2 linked regions of the Homo sapiens genome follow. The protein of the gene in region 2 interacts with the protein of the main gene of each other region in a biochemical or structural test. Each region holds a gene or a part of one and is shown on either strand. Other genes may lie near its edges.

The links. Proteins that work in one complex are often made in the same cells at the same time.
Region 1: the proteins of CLUAP1 (region 2) and UBXN10 form a complex in vitro, tested with the Homo sapiens proteins (one study listed by BioGRID).

What each region holds. Positions count from the first base shown.
Region 1 is NC_000001.11:20,182,072-20,189,095, reverse strand, and holds the start of UBXN10 (UBX domain-containing protein 10), read right to left. Parts: upstream 3,001-7,024; 5' UTR 2,943-3,000; exon of another isoform or gene 476-2,942; intron 1-475. UniProt on the Homo sapiens protein: VCP/p97-binding protein required for ciliogenesis. Acts as a tethering factor that facilitates recruitment of VCP/p97 to the intraflagellar transport complex B (IFT-B) in cilia.
Region 2 is NC_000016.10:3,524,533-3,532,291, forward strand, and holds part of CLUAP1 (clusterin-associated protein 1), read left to right. Parts: intron 1-1,879; coding exon 1,880-1,952; intron 1,953-6,035; coding exon 6,036-6,143; intron 6,144-7,759. UniProt on the Homo sapiens protein: Required for cilia biogenesis. Appears to function within the multiple intraflagellar transport complex B (IFT-B). Key regulator of hedgehog signaling.

The DNA.
Region 1 (7,024 bases), on a different chromosome or scaffold from region 2:
CTACCTTTCTGGCACAAAACTTTCCTCATCTATCAAATTAGCTAAATGATCTTAGAGGTATTACTTAAGTACCTCAGAACATCAGTCTTTTTGTCTGTAACATGAGGATAATAACATGAAATAATGTAGGTAAGGTGGGAAGCACCAGGCTTAGTGCATGGTAGAAACTTAATTAAATGTTAAGCGTTTTTTGTTGTCGTCGTTGTTTGCTTCGGGTTGTCTGTTTAGTGCTTCCTATGTGCTAAGTTCAAAAGCCTTCCTTGTTTTGCTCTAGAACTTTTCCCCGTGTGTCCTCGGTGATTCTACTCCTGGTTAACCAGCTGGGTGAGTCCTGAAACTCATGCCTGCCCTGTCCACTGCACAGAAATGCAGGGAGGTGGACTGCAATGAGCTACCACCTACGCAGTTGCCTCAAAACATGTGAAAATAAAATCCCGAGTTGATCACTTCTCTTCTAATTCCACATTTTACTTACCTCAGATTCACTTCCTGCAGAATGATTTGCACTTCCTGCAAATTCACTCCTTTCATCACAAAATCTTGAACAATGTAATCTGAGCCTCTCAGGGTTTGTATTCTAACCTCACCATTCTGCACATGTAACCACTGCTGCCTAATTTTAAGGAGTATCTGCTTCCTCTCCACTCAGACCAGGACCAAACGCAACACATTATCCCTATATCTTCCTGATGTCCTGCTCAATTCAAAATCTTGGACAAAGCTACCCTCTTTTAAAGGCCTCTATGTCTGCTGCATTCCACTCACAGCCTGAGTCTCTCTCCACTCCCATTTTCCACTTCTCCCTCGTCTTTCACACCCAGTCTGGCTGCTAGTAGCTCAGGAGCCTTCTCCTTAGCAAACTTTTGGCATCAAAAAAGACTGCCCATCTCCTTGTTAATTTCATCTATTTTCTGATCAACTGTGAAGAATGTGTTTTTCCCCCTTTAGTCTCCTTCTCAAGTCTTTCTCTGGCAATTAGCAGCTCTGCACTTTCACTCAGGATGGCAGGAGAAGGTCATAACTGTCCAACTGTTCTGCCAAAGATAAGCTCCACAGGCAAACCCACGCCCCTCTCGGCCCACCCTCCCCACTTGTGGAATGGCTATTAATTTGCCACAGCTTCTACAGAATTATCACAGGCTTGGCTTCCAACACCCACACATGCCTCAGGAAGGTTTAACTGTCAGTGAGTTTGGTAACTTAGAAACCTCTTCCTTAACAACTTTGATGAGGAGAGTCATGTGTTCTCACAGGCTCTCTGTGGGATTATTTTTAACAGTAAAACTTGAGTATGTGCATGCACTTTCTATACCTTTTGGTTCCATATAATTATCCATGTTCAGGGGGTGTCATATTCAAGACACCCTGGTCATAAGATAACATGACTGTGAGCTATCTCAGAGAAAAACCTCAATTATGACTAATTCCTAGGAGCCCACTCATGGTTATTTAGAGACTAACACCTCCTTCAGGTAAAACCATTATATCCAACCTGCTTTCATAACCCACTGCCTCCTCCCGAGCACAGGGACCATCTGTTACACGGAGGGAACACCAGCTCTCCCCAGCACCCATCACACAGGGATGGGCGGTGGGGGAAACAGGTGTTTGGGGATCTGGGCCAACTGTGCCTTTATATTCACACCTCAGGTCCTGAACTCTGCCCACCACCCTCAGTCCAGGATTGAGGCAGCAGCCATGATTCTCCCTGCTCAGTTCACTTCACCACCTCTAGGCCTGGCAGCCACTCAACCACAAACCGATTTGACAAGATCTAGGCGTAGGCATCTATCAAGCTGCCAAGCTGAATAGGCGAGTGGCCTGTTTACTTAAACACAATAGCTGCACCCCAGCGGCCTGCTAGGAGTCAGGAAGCAAACACTGCCAACTGTTTCCAAGAAGTTGCCAGAAGGGCAGGTGCCCATTCCTTAAGATTCACCACCAAATCAACTGGAAAGAAGGAAATGTGGATAGGAGAAGCTAAAGCAGGGCTCCTGCTTTCTAAGGGTGCCCACCACCCACCACAGGGTCAGACCACCCTATTTCACTCACAACCCAAATCTAAGCCTACAGTATATGCAGTAAAATATAACCACCTACATACCATCTGCTGGTATATACCAAGATACATACATTTGAATTGGTCTTTTAAAACTGTATCAGTTAATCCTATCCGTTGCCATCCCGCCCCCCCCAACCCACACCCCCACCAGGCTTTCAGGATAAAAATGCTCTGAAGAACCAACAGGAGATGGTGGTTGGCCTGAGAATGAAAAAACTCTGGTACCATTCCCAGTTCTACCCCAAACTAGGGATTAGAATACACTGTCCTATGCAGAGTGCCACACTGAACCACAAGCCACCAAGTGATCAAATGTTTGGATAGAGAACTGGGGATGATTCCAGCGTCAGAAGGGCAGGGAGGTGGTGGGGATAACTCAATTAAGTCCAAGTTCCAGCGCCCTAGAAGGCAACAGGCTTAAGAGGCAGAGGAGGGATCTGGGGGAGGGGCGAGAAAGAGCGTTTAGAAAGCGAGAATTGACTTCAGAGAAAGAGCACAGGACTGGGGGAGGGGCCCTCTGGTTCTCGTCTCTGCCCTGCCGGAGACTGGGACATCCTTTTCTCTCCCTGGGTCTGTGTCCCCGTCGCTACATCCCAGCCTGGAGGGCATGGCCCAGCGGTTGCATAGGTCCCTCGGTTTCTGCAGAGCCCGGGAGTCACCCTATTTTGGTAAAGGTGAGCTCTGGCCAGGCTTGCTTTGCCTCGGGAGCAGACTTTTCTCCAGGCTCCTCGCCTGTCTCCCGGGGTTTGCGTCCCCCGGGCTGGGTCTGGGGAGGCCCTCCCGGGTGATGTGCTGGGGTCTCGGGGACTGGCCTCCCCCGGCCCCTTCCAGGCCTGGCGGAGGCCAAGGGCAGGCCGCGGGATCGGGCAGCCGCTCTCACCTAGCCGTTCCGCTCCATCCGCCGCCTGCGCCCGGGCTCTGTCCTGCTGGTAAACAACCCTGGTCTCCCGGGCAACGCCGCAGGGTGGGGGGCCACGTGCTTCCGGCGTGACCGGAACCGGCCTGGGTCGGGTGGGGTCGGGTGGGGTCGGGTGGGGGCCGCTGGGCCAGGAGGGCGGAGGCCGTGAACTCCAGGTCGGTGGATTGCGAGCCTGGAGTGGATTGCCTGGCCTGGAGGCGACAGGGACCCGCGGCCTCCTTCTCTCCTCCTCTTCCTAGCGTCACCGCCTCTGTTTCTCTCTGGGGGAGAGTGTCTGGGAGAGGGAGAGCCCTGGCCGGGGCATGGAGGAGCGGGGAGCAGCACCACTAGTCTCAAAATCCGTTTCTCACCTTGGGTCAGGCCCTGACCCTCTCAGTGTCCCTGGTTTTAAAATGAGGCTGTGGGACTGATGGATTCTCGGAACCCTAAACTCTGAGTGGATGCTTCTAGGGTATCTGAGTTGCGGGGAGCAGGGCCCCCATCCTCAGTACAGCCCTTTCAGCGCCAGTTCCCTGACCTCTTTTCACATCAGCCTCCCACTCCGGGGCCACACTGGGAACCTTATCAACAGCATCTGCACCTCCTTTGATGTCCCCAGCCACAATCTCTTCCACTTCCAGCCACTTGAGTCACTTCCGCTGTATCTGTTTTTCACCATCTTTGGGTTTCCTGTCCATTGCTGTCTCCGCTTTCCCCCTCGATATCAATCTGCTTCTTCCCTATCCTGGCCCATTACCTCGGCATTCTCAAAAGGATCCTCCCTGCCCGAGTCCTACTCTCCTTCCATCTGATGAAACCTGAAGCCAAACCAGTCCACCTACACACGGGTATTGAAGAAGTCTTGGCCAGCCACACACCTTGGTGTAACAGAAACACGAGGTCTCTAACCTCAGTTAGACTCTCAGCCCTGCACTTCCATCCCCAACCGACCACTGGGTTCTCTCTCCCTCCTTTCTTCTTTTTCTTCCTTTTTTAAGGGGAGACAGGGTCTCGCCCCTTCACCCAGGCTGGAGTGCAGTGGTGCAATCACAGCTCACTGCAGCCTGGACCTCCCCAGCTCAGCCTCCCTTGTAGCTGGGACTACAGGCGTGCACCACCATGCTTGGCTAATTTTTATTATTTTTTGTAGAATGGGGTTCTGCCATGTTGCTGAGGGTGGTCTTGAAGTCTTGGGCTCAAGTGATCCTCCCGCCTCAGCCTCCCAAAGTGCTGAGATTACAGACATGAGCCACCTCGCCCAGCCTCTCCTTTCTTCTCAATGGCTATTTCAAAACGTTGTTTTGCTTGCGAAACCTCCCACCTCTCCCTCTCCCACCTCCCTCCCTCCTCCCTCTTAGAAGATACCTTTACTGCCCTCTTCAGAGAGAAAATAGAAGCCATCATATGGAAACTTCCTCAGCCTTCTGCCATCAGACCTGCAAACTTGCCTGCCTACACTTCCTTGCTTTCCTCCCTCCCTCCAGTTCTAATGTCTTCTGATTCTCTCCAAGGTGAATTGCTCCTCCATGGGTCGTGAAAGAAGATCATGTCAGTGGTGGTGTTTCTGCTCGTCTCAGAAGGGAAGTCTGTGACCCGTGGGAGTTGCTGGGGAGGGCCTGGTCTGGGCCAGGCCTCTTCTTTGGGTTGCCCCCTCACACACTCTGGTCATCCAGGAAGCCTCTGTGGCCCTCGGAATGTGTAAAAGATGGTGGTTTTAGGAGCTGCTGGTTTTGCAACTGAGTGCTGACGGCTTATTTCTTGTTAATGATTCTGTCAAAAGTGTCTTAGCGATGCTCTTCAGCCCTTCATCACCCACCCAAAAAAGATTAAAGTGGATTCTTCATCAGCTATTTTAAAATCACCTAAGAATTATACAATCCTTTGGAGAATCAAATTGGCTTCTCACCGTGTGTGTGTGTGTGTGTGTGTGTGTGTGTGCGTGTGCGCACGCACGCGCGCCTTTGCCAGTGCACAGTGAAATGGCGGTCTGTTTAATGTCAGCAGTACATGCAGTTAACGTCAGCAGTACCTGCCTTTTGCTCTCCAGTGTTGTGTAATGCCCAGCCCCAGGGGGAGGCAGGAGAGGAGGAAAGGAAGGCGCCAGTCCATTGCTGTGCCTCTGCTGCCTTTGTGCCCGACCTTCTATAAAGAGGATGTCTTCAAAGGACAGACCTGATAATGCCTGGTGTCTGGCACATACCCAGAGTGGATCTCAGTAAACATGGGCAGAGGTCATTGCCCTGCCAGCTGAAATGTGGACTCACCTTCCTTTCTAGCCATGTCCCAATCTACTCTCCAGCTCTCTCCCTGGGCTGCAGCCAGCTTGCTCCCCAGATGGGCCCCAGCTTTTTCATCTCCAGTGTCTTTGCCCATGCCTGCCCCACCCTGCTCTCTTCCTTGAAGTTAAGCCAAAATGACTGATCCTTCAAGGCCCATCTTAAAAGCCACCTCTTCCGTGAAGCCCTTTCCTGACCACAGCCTCCCCACAAAAGCTCATGTGCTCTCTCTGGTCGCCTTTGGTCCAGTGGAACATGCCCAAGATGGTGCTGTGCACCCTCCCTAGGTCGGCTCCCTTCATCTTCACAACGCTCCTTAATGGAGGCATCATAGCCCTCCTTTGCTTTAGAAAACAGTGGAGCCTCAGGGTTCCCCCTGGTGAAGGAGCAGCAGAGCAATTTTACAACCTGCATCCAGCAGTTTCCAAAGCCCACCCTGGACCCCAGAGTCCCACCCCCAAGCTCCTCACCTGCGTGTTCCCCCATGGCCCTTATCTGTGCTGTCCGTTGCACTGGTCGTGGGGACTGCAGGCATGGCCTCTGACGTCAAAGCTTGAGTATCAATCCTGGCTCCACCACTTGCCAGCTGAAGACGTTAGGTAAATGATTTACCTTCGCTGGATGTCAGTTTCCGCATCTCTAGAATGGTGATGATAAGCACAGGATTGTTGTGCGGCTGAAATGAGGTAACACACGTGCCAAGTGCTTAGTGAGGGCTACTAACTCTTGTTGCATCATCTTCACTTACAGTGTACATCTCCTTCAGTAGGTTATGAGCTCCTTGAAGGCAGGAACTTGCCTGTCTCGGAATCCCCTGCCTTGTCCACACAATGCTTACTTTGTGATACGTGCTCGGCAATGATGATGGTGGTGCTGATTCCAAGGCTAGCGTTTCCACTGAGCGATCCAGCAAGCTGCTAACTGGTATCCTCCCCAACCATATTTGGCTTGGGGTCCAAATGACCTCCCCAGGGGCTTGCTGAAGGCGGGGGCCCCGGTTTCTTAGCGGCTTGTCCCCACAGAGTGTTTGGCCCCATTTTGAATTAGTGATTTCTAGATTTCAGAGTCTATAGCCAGTGTCCTGCTCTGCCTGTCCTTGGTCTCATTAGACATGTGGATTGAGATCATGGATAACCTTTAAGCAGAAGGTGAACCAGGTGGATATTCTAGTAGCAAGGCCAAGAGGCTGGCAGTTAGTCATGGCTCCTGTGATCAGCTTCCTAAGGGGATCTGCAAGAGGGAAGTTTCTGGATGATGAAACTTAACCCTTGAAGTACAGACATGGGTCACTTAACCATGGGGATACATGCTGACAACTTCATTGCTAGGTGATTTTTTCATTGTGCAAACATTGTGGAGTGTGCTTACCCAAACCTAGATGGTCTAGCCTGCTACACACCTAGGTTATATGGTATAGCCTGTTGCTCCTAGGCCACAAACCTGTACAGCATGTTGCCGTTCTAAATACTGTAACACAATGGCAATTGTAACACAATAGTAAGTATTTGTGTATCCAAACAGATCTAAACATAGAAAAGGTACAATTTAAAATATGGTATAAAAGATAAAAAAAATGGTATGCCTATATAGCGCAGCTACCTTATAATCTTATGGGACCACCATCGTATGTGTGGTCTGTCATTGGACCAAAATGTCATTATATGGTGCATGACTGTACCACAGCTTTTTATTATTTTCCCCGTATTGTTGGAAAATATCCAAAAATGTATAGCCTGCTTTCCAGTCTTGTTAAGCAGAACACATCAAACACTGTAACTCACCTTGGCT
Region 2 (7,759 bases):
GTTGCAGTGAGCCGAGATTGCGCCACTGCACTCTAGCCTGGGCGACAGAGCAAGACACCATCTCAAAAAAAAAAAAAAAAAAAAAAAAAGAAAGAGATTTTCAAGTCCTGGTTAATTGAATCACCAGAATAGCTCATTGGAGATTGTTTTGTAAAGAGGAATGGCAGTTTATTTATTGATTGTGGGAAATAAATGTGTGGCCTTGAGCCTGACCAACCATCTTACAGGTTCCTCTCATCCCTGTGGGTAAGGCCATTTAGGAAAAGAGTGTTTTAGACCCGAGCATGAGTTGATAAATGTGGAATTTAGAGCAAAGGAAATTGAACCAAGTTGTGATCAGTTTTTGAATTGCCCTATCCTTAACCTGAGAATGGTCATTTAGACTCCATTTTCATGATGAAATTGGTCTGCAGTCTCCCTTTCTCATGCCCTTGACAGCTTTTGGTATTAAGGTTATGCTAGGCTTCTTACAATACTGAGCATTTGAGTTTGGCAGAGCTATTTTGTTGTCCAGGAGGGCTAACTGGGAGTACCTAACGCATCCGTGTGGACACATGTCATCTTGACGAGGAATTCATTGCTAGCATTACTCTGTGGCAGAGGCAGGCCATGGAGAAATGGTACGGGACAGGCACATTTCGAGGGCACTAGAAAGAGCTTGGAGTTTAGAACATTTTAAACATTGGGTACCTGGGAAAGAACAGTCAAGGGCAGTGAAAAGAAACGTTGGCCATTTTTTTGTATTATCTGGGGCCACCTCTGGGTTCAGAGAACAAACCAAACAGTATGCCTCAGAGTGGCAGGTAGGTGGCCCAGGAAACTTCCCAGGGAGCCCCTCTACCCTACCCTTCCTTCAACAAGTACATCTCTTTTTCTCTTACTCACTCTCGCTCTCTGTCGTTAGAATACCTGTTCCCTCGAAATACCCCATGCCGGAAACACAGTGCTTTATTTTTAATGTTTAGAACAACAATATATAAAGCCAACTTCCTCCCTCTGTCTGTCCCTCCCCCCCACTCTCTCTCTTTGTCTCTTTCTCTTTCTCAACGGGGTCTCACTCTGTTGCCTGCCACTCTGTCTGGAGGGCAGGGTGTGATTATAACTCACTGTAGCTTCAGACCTCTTGGGCTCAAGCGATCCTCCCACCTCAGCTTCTTGAGTAGCTGGGACTATAGGCACTTGCCACCATACCTGGCTAAATTTTTTAAATTTGTTGTAGAGATGAGGTTTCCCTATGTTGCCCAGGCTGGTCTCAAACTCCTGGGCTCAAGTGATCCTCCTGCCTTGGCCTCCCAAAGCGTGGGGGTTACAGGTGTGAGCCACCACGCCCAGCCCCCATTCTCTTTCTTGATAATAATCAAGGCCACATTTTATGATCTGAGATATTTCCTCCTGTCCCCACCCCTGTTCCCATCCTTACCTGTCCCACCATTTAGCATCTTTTGAGCTGGAATCTGAAGGCAGGGCAGGAAAGATAAATGATAAAATCTATACTTTCTTCCTTTGAAAGCAGGAGGCCTGTCTCTGCCCTAAAATTAGATGTGTCTGTTCTGTGTCCCCAGGTCATACAGGCATGCGTGATGGGCATTTAGTTCTCCTCAGAGGCAGGGAAATGCAATCGGAGAAGCATGGGGTGGGGCAGCTGCTTCACTCTGGGCGCCCCTGTCCACCAGGCCACGAGGCAACCGCAGAGAGAAAGGGCAGTAAGTTTCAGGACCCTGGAGTTGCTCAGGCAGTGTTAATTCTCTTCCCCTTCCTTGAGTTTAGCTCTTTTTTTGTTCTGTAGCACAAACTTAGCAGTCCTTACACAGTGGTGAAGAAGAATAGAACAGTCCAGAAAAGGGCCATCTCTCCTGAGTCTGTATTTCCTCTTCCACAGGAAGCTAAAAACACTCTCTGCCTGATACAGAACAAGCTCAAGGAGGAAGAGAAGCGCCTGCTCAAGAGTGGAAGTAAGGCTGGGCTTCGTAGACGAGCAGTTTACTCTGGACTAGTATTTTCAGCCTTGAAATATATATAGAGAGATATATATATATTTTTTAATATGTATTTTCTTCTTTTTTTCAGCAGTTTTTTTTTTACTGTAGTAAGAACACTTCACTTTACATCTTCAATTTTGAAAAGTATAATAAATTATTGTTGACTATAGGTACAAAAATATTTTCAAAAGGCGGTTTTCTCACAACTTCTATATTGGGTACCATTGTATTCACTCAAGAGTCTGGTTTAAATATAGCATTTAAAACACATTTCGTTCTTGTGCCAGTTAAGATAGTGTTTTCCCCTGTTTAAATGATAGTTTGAATTATATATGATGCGTAACTATAAGAAAACATGGCCCTAGATGTGTGTAGGGTTCTGTATTTTCAGGCTGAATGATGGAAAGCAAGCACTGGGATGCAGTGCAGGGAGAGGGGCCGCTCGCTTTGTGATGGTCCCCATGCTGCTGAGATGCCCCCCATAATCCAGAATGGCTCAGCAAGACACTCAGCTGGAGAGACACAGGGTTACGTCCATGCAAAGCCTAGATTCCGGGAAGGAGCTCTCTGTGACCAGGCAGCTTCCCTTATCCTTGTGTGGGCGGCAAGCCGCCCAGGTGCCGAGGCAAGAGACCGAGAGCACGAGCTGTTCCAGTATAATAAAATATATAAAATAAGAATAGTTATACTAGATATAGATCATAGATATGATTATATATGAATATCATTAATCATTAGTTTATAGCAATTACTCTTTATTCCAATATCATAATAATCCTCGCTCTACAATCATAACCTAGGAAAAAACAGGCCATACAGATATAGGAGCTGAGGGGACATGGTGAGAAGTGACCAGAAGACAAGAGTGCAAACCTTCTGTTATGCCCAGACAGGGCCACCAGAGGGCTCCTTGGTCTAGTGGGAACACCAGCGTCTGGGAAGCCGCCCGTTGCCAAGTGGACCGTGGTCTAGTGGTAGCGTCAGTGTCAAGGAAAAACACCTGCTACTTAGCAGACCAGGAAAGGGAGTCTCCCTTTCCCCGGGGGAGTTTAGAGAAGACTTTACTCCTCCACCTCTTGTGGAGGGCCTGACATCAGTCAGGCCCGCCCGCAGTTATCCGGAGGCCTAACCATCTCCCGGTGATACTGTGCTTCAGTGGTCATGCTCCTAGTCTGCCTTCATGTTCTGTCCTGTACACCTGGCTCTGCCTTTTAGATAGTAGTAGCAAATTAGTGGAAGTACTAAAAGTCTCTGATAAGCAGAAATAATGGCGTAAGCTGTCTCTCTCTCCTCTCTGTCTCTCTGCCTCAGCTGCCAGGCAGGGAAGGGCCCCCTGTCCAGTGGATACGTGACCCATGTGACCTTACCTATCACTGAAGATGGCTCACTCTCCTTACCCTGCCCCTTTGTCTTGTATCCAATAAATATCAGCACAGCCTGGCATTCAGGGCCACTATCAGTCTCCACGTCTTCGTGGTAGTGGTCCCCCAAGCCCGGCTGTCTTTTCTTTTATCTCTTTGTCTTGTGTCTTTATTTCTACAGTCTCTCATCTCTGCACATGGGGAGAAAACCCACCGACCCTGTGGGGCTGTACCCTACATCCCTGAACTTCAGTGTCAAGTCACTGTCAGGGACCGGTAGCAGCCCAGGATCTTCCTGCTGAATTGATGGCCTTGTTGCACGGAGTTCCTCCTCCTCTTGCTGGTTGCCCTTTCTTTTCTTCAGGGTGAAATATTCTATTCACTCTCATGTTGAGGGCAGCATACTTGAGGCATCAGGCCCACACACATGCTCCCACACACACTCTCTCTCTCTCTCTTTCTCTTTCTTTGCCATTTCCCTTGTATCTCTCTCATTTTGCACCTGTTCTGTGACTCTCTCGTCTGAATCTCAGGAAACTTTGGAGGAAGGATAGGGACTGCTGGGAAATCCTCCAGGAACAAGGTTAGGAAATTTGAAGGGCCTGTCTAGCCAAAGCAGCCCTCCCCTTTTTAGTTCCATGTCAGCCAGGAGCATGTGAAGCAGCCCTCAGTGATCAGCCTGCATGGGGTTTGTCCCTTGCGAGAGGCCCAGCTCAGCTAGGAGCCCTGGTTTGTTGCTTGCATCCCATGCTGTCCCCGGGCCAGGATGCTAAGACCTGCCATTCTGATCTTGCTTTATTCACCAAGATTTACCTTTGTGTTTTCTTCTAGGAGTTCTATAGTTTTAGCTCTTACATTTAGGTCTCTGATCCACTTTGAGTTAATTTTTGTATATGGTGTGAGACAGGGGGTCCAACTTCATTCTTTTGCATGTGGCTATTCGGTTGTCCTATTATCATTTGTGGAAAAGACTATTATTTCCCCATTGAGTTATACTCGCATGTTGTCAGCCATTAATTTTAATTGTCACTGTCAGCTCAGTGGTTTCAGTGTCAGCATGCATTAATGTCTTAGTCTGTTTTGTGCTGCTGTAACAGAATACCTGAGACTGGGTAATTATATATTTTACATAAAATATATACAGCATTGTATATATGGATACATGCAGTCATCCCTCAATATCTGCGAAGAACTGGTGCCAGAACCCACCTGTGGATACCAAAATCCACAGATGTTCAAGTCCTTTTCATGTAACCTATGCACATCCTCCCATATACTTTAAGTCATCTCTAGATTACATAAAATACCTAACATAATGCCTATACATCACTTCATTCACATGGATTCAACATAGTACTTGGTATGTGGCAAATTCAAGTTTTGCTTTTTGGAACTTTGTAGATCTTTTTTGAACTTTGTAGATTTTTTTTCCAAATAATTCAGATCCATGGTTGGCTGAACCCATGGATGTGAAATCCATGGATACAGAGGGCCAGTTTTGTATGTGTGTGTGTGTGTGTGTAGTTTATATATATATGTCATATATATTATTATATATAATATATATTATATTATATATTATTATATATAATATATATTATATTATATATTATATAATTATATTATATTATATATATTATATAATTATATATTATTATATGTTATATATTATTATATATTATATATTATTATATATTATATATTATATAATATTATATATTATTATATATTATATATTATATAATATTATATATTATATATTATTATATATTATATATTATTATATATTATATATTATTATATATTATATATTATTATATATTATATATTATATATTATATAATATTATATATTATATATATTATTATATATTATATATTATATAATATATATTATATTATTATATATTATATAATATATATTATATTATTATATATATATTATAATATAATATATTATATAATATATTATATAATATATATTTTATAATATAATTTATAATTTATAAATTTATATTTATAATTATATATGTTATATAGTTATATATTATTATATATAATAATATATGACAATTATATAACATATATAATATATTAGTATTAGGTTATATTATTATCATTATAATCAGAAACTTACTTGTCTGAAATTTAATGAGCCACAGTTCTAGGAGCAAGCCCAAGATCAAGGAGCTGCATCTTGCCGCACCATCCCATGGCAGAAGGGCAAAGAGAGGGCGAGAGAGAGCAAGAGATCAAACTCACAGCCTCAAGCCCTTTTATAACCAGCATTAATCCATTCTTCAAGGCGGAGCCCTCATGACCTAAACACCTCCCAGTATGCCCCACCTCCCAACACTGTTGCATTGGGATTTAAGTTTCCAACACAGGCTTTTCGGAGACACATTGAAATCATATAATAGCAATTGACTTTAGTTTACCTGCTCACTTCTCAGGTCTGTATTGGTTTGAGTTGTAAGAAGAAATCTTATTGAGCCTGAGGTACATGTATTAATTTTATTTTAAAATTGATTATATAATTTGATTTGCATTGCATGGGATAAGGATTTAATGTCTTAATTTCCTGGATAGAATAAGAAATGAACAAATGACTTTTGCACACAGACCTTACTGGGCAGAGCTGTTTCGTTGTGATCATGAAGCCACTCCTTTGTTTTGCCTGCTTGTGTTCCTGCTAGGTAACGATGACTCGGACATAGACATCCAGGAGGACGATGAATCCGACAGTGAGTTGGAAGAAAGGCGGCTGCCCAAGCCACAGACAGCCATGGAGATGCTCATGCAAGGTACCCCGGCGTCTTTCGCTGGACTTCCTCCCTGCGCCCTGTTTCACAGAACACCTGGCCAGGACTGGGGCAGGCTGCTTAGTATTGAGGCCCACAAGCGTGCTGCGAATGGCCCCTAGAAGCAGCTCTTGCTCAGGTTTATCCTGTCCTGTTGTTTATGGCTCTTGAACTGCTCAGTGGTCATGTTTGCTCCTTGTCTGTGATCCCAAGACTGGATGGTTCATATTTATGGCTTGGTATTTCTCACAGCCACAAGAACACATTGCCTCTGCCACTCTCAGTGCAGTGATATACTTAATAGCCTGAGAATTAATGCAGAAAGGGACTTAAATGAGCATCTCTGCCTTAAAAAAAGTTCTTCTAATTCCTTTACTCATCACAAAAGATTCAAGCAACAAAGCTCAGCGCAGTGGTGCACACCTTATTCCCAGCTACTCAGGAGGCTGAGGCAGAAGGATCATTTGAGCCTAGGAGCTCGGAGCTGTAGTATGTGATGATTGTGTCCGTGAATATCCACTGCATTCCGGCCCGGGCAACATAGAGGGGCTCTTAAAACTAAGTTAAGCCAGGCGCGGTGGCTCACGCCTGTAATCCCAGCACTTTGGGAGGCCAAGGCGGGTGGATCACGAGGTCAAGAGATCGAGACCATCCTGGCTAACACGGTGAAACCCCGTCTCTACTAAAAATAAAAAAAAAATTAGTTGGGCGCAATGGCGGGCGCCCATAGTCCCAGCTACTCGGGAGGCTGAGACAGGAGAATGGTGTGAACCCAGGAGGCGGAGCTTGCAGTGAGCCGAGATCACGCCACTGCACTCCAGCCTGGGCGACAGAGTGAGACTCCGTCTCAAAAAAAAAAAAAGAGTTAAAACAAAAAAAGACTCAGGCAACAAAATTTGTAGAGCAAATGTGAATTCTCTCCTGGGGTCTTCCTCATGTCCCACTCCCACCTGGGAGGGCTCATGGCTAGTGGCCAGGGTGGGTGTGTCTTTACAGATTACCTTTCTGTACATATACATACGCACACACATACACATACAAAGATCACCTGAAAAAAATTTAACCTGAGTGCAACCAGACGGTATGTATGGTTCTGCAACTTGCTTTTGTTTTTAAAAATTAAGTACAATTGGAACTCTTCCTCTGTCAGCAATAGATCTGCCCCCTAATTTTTTTTTTTTTTCTTTTTGAGACAAAGTCTCGCTCTTGGTCCCCAGGTTGGAGTGCAATGGCATGATCTTGGCTCACTGCAACCTCTGCTTCCCGGAGGGAGCAATTCTCCTGCAATCCCAAGTAGCTGGGGTTACAGGCCCGTGCCACCACACCCAGCTAATTTTTGTATTTTTAGTAGAGACGGGGTTTCACCATGTTGGCCAGGCTGGTCTCGAACTCCCAACCTCAGGTGATCCACCCGCCTCGGCCTCCCAAAGTGCTGGGATTACAGGCCTGAGCCACCACTCCTGGCCTGCCCCCTACTTTTTAATGGCTATGTCATATTCCTAGCAGGACTGTACCCATGATTTACTGGGCGTTCTCGCATTGATATTTCCCCTCTTTTCCTTGTATATACATCTTTCTGCATGTCTGCATATCTTTAGGTTGCATCATTAAAAGTCAAA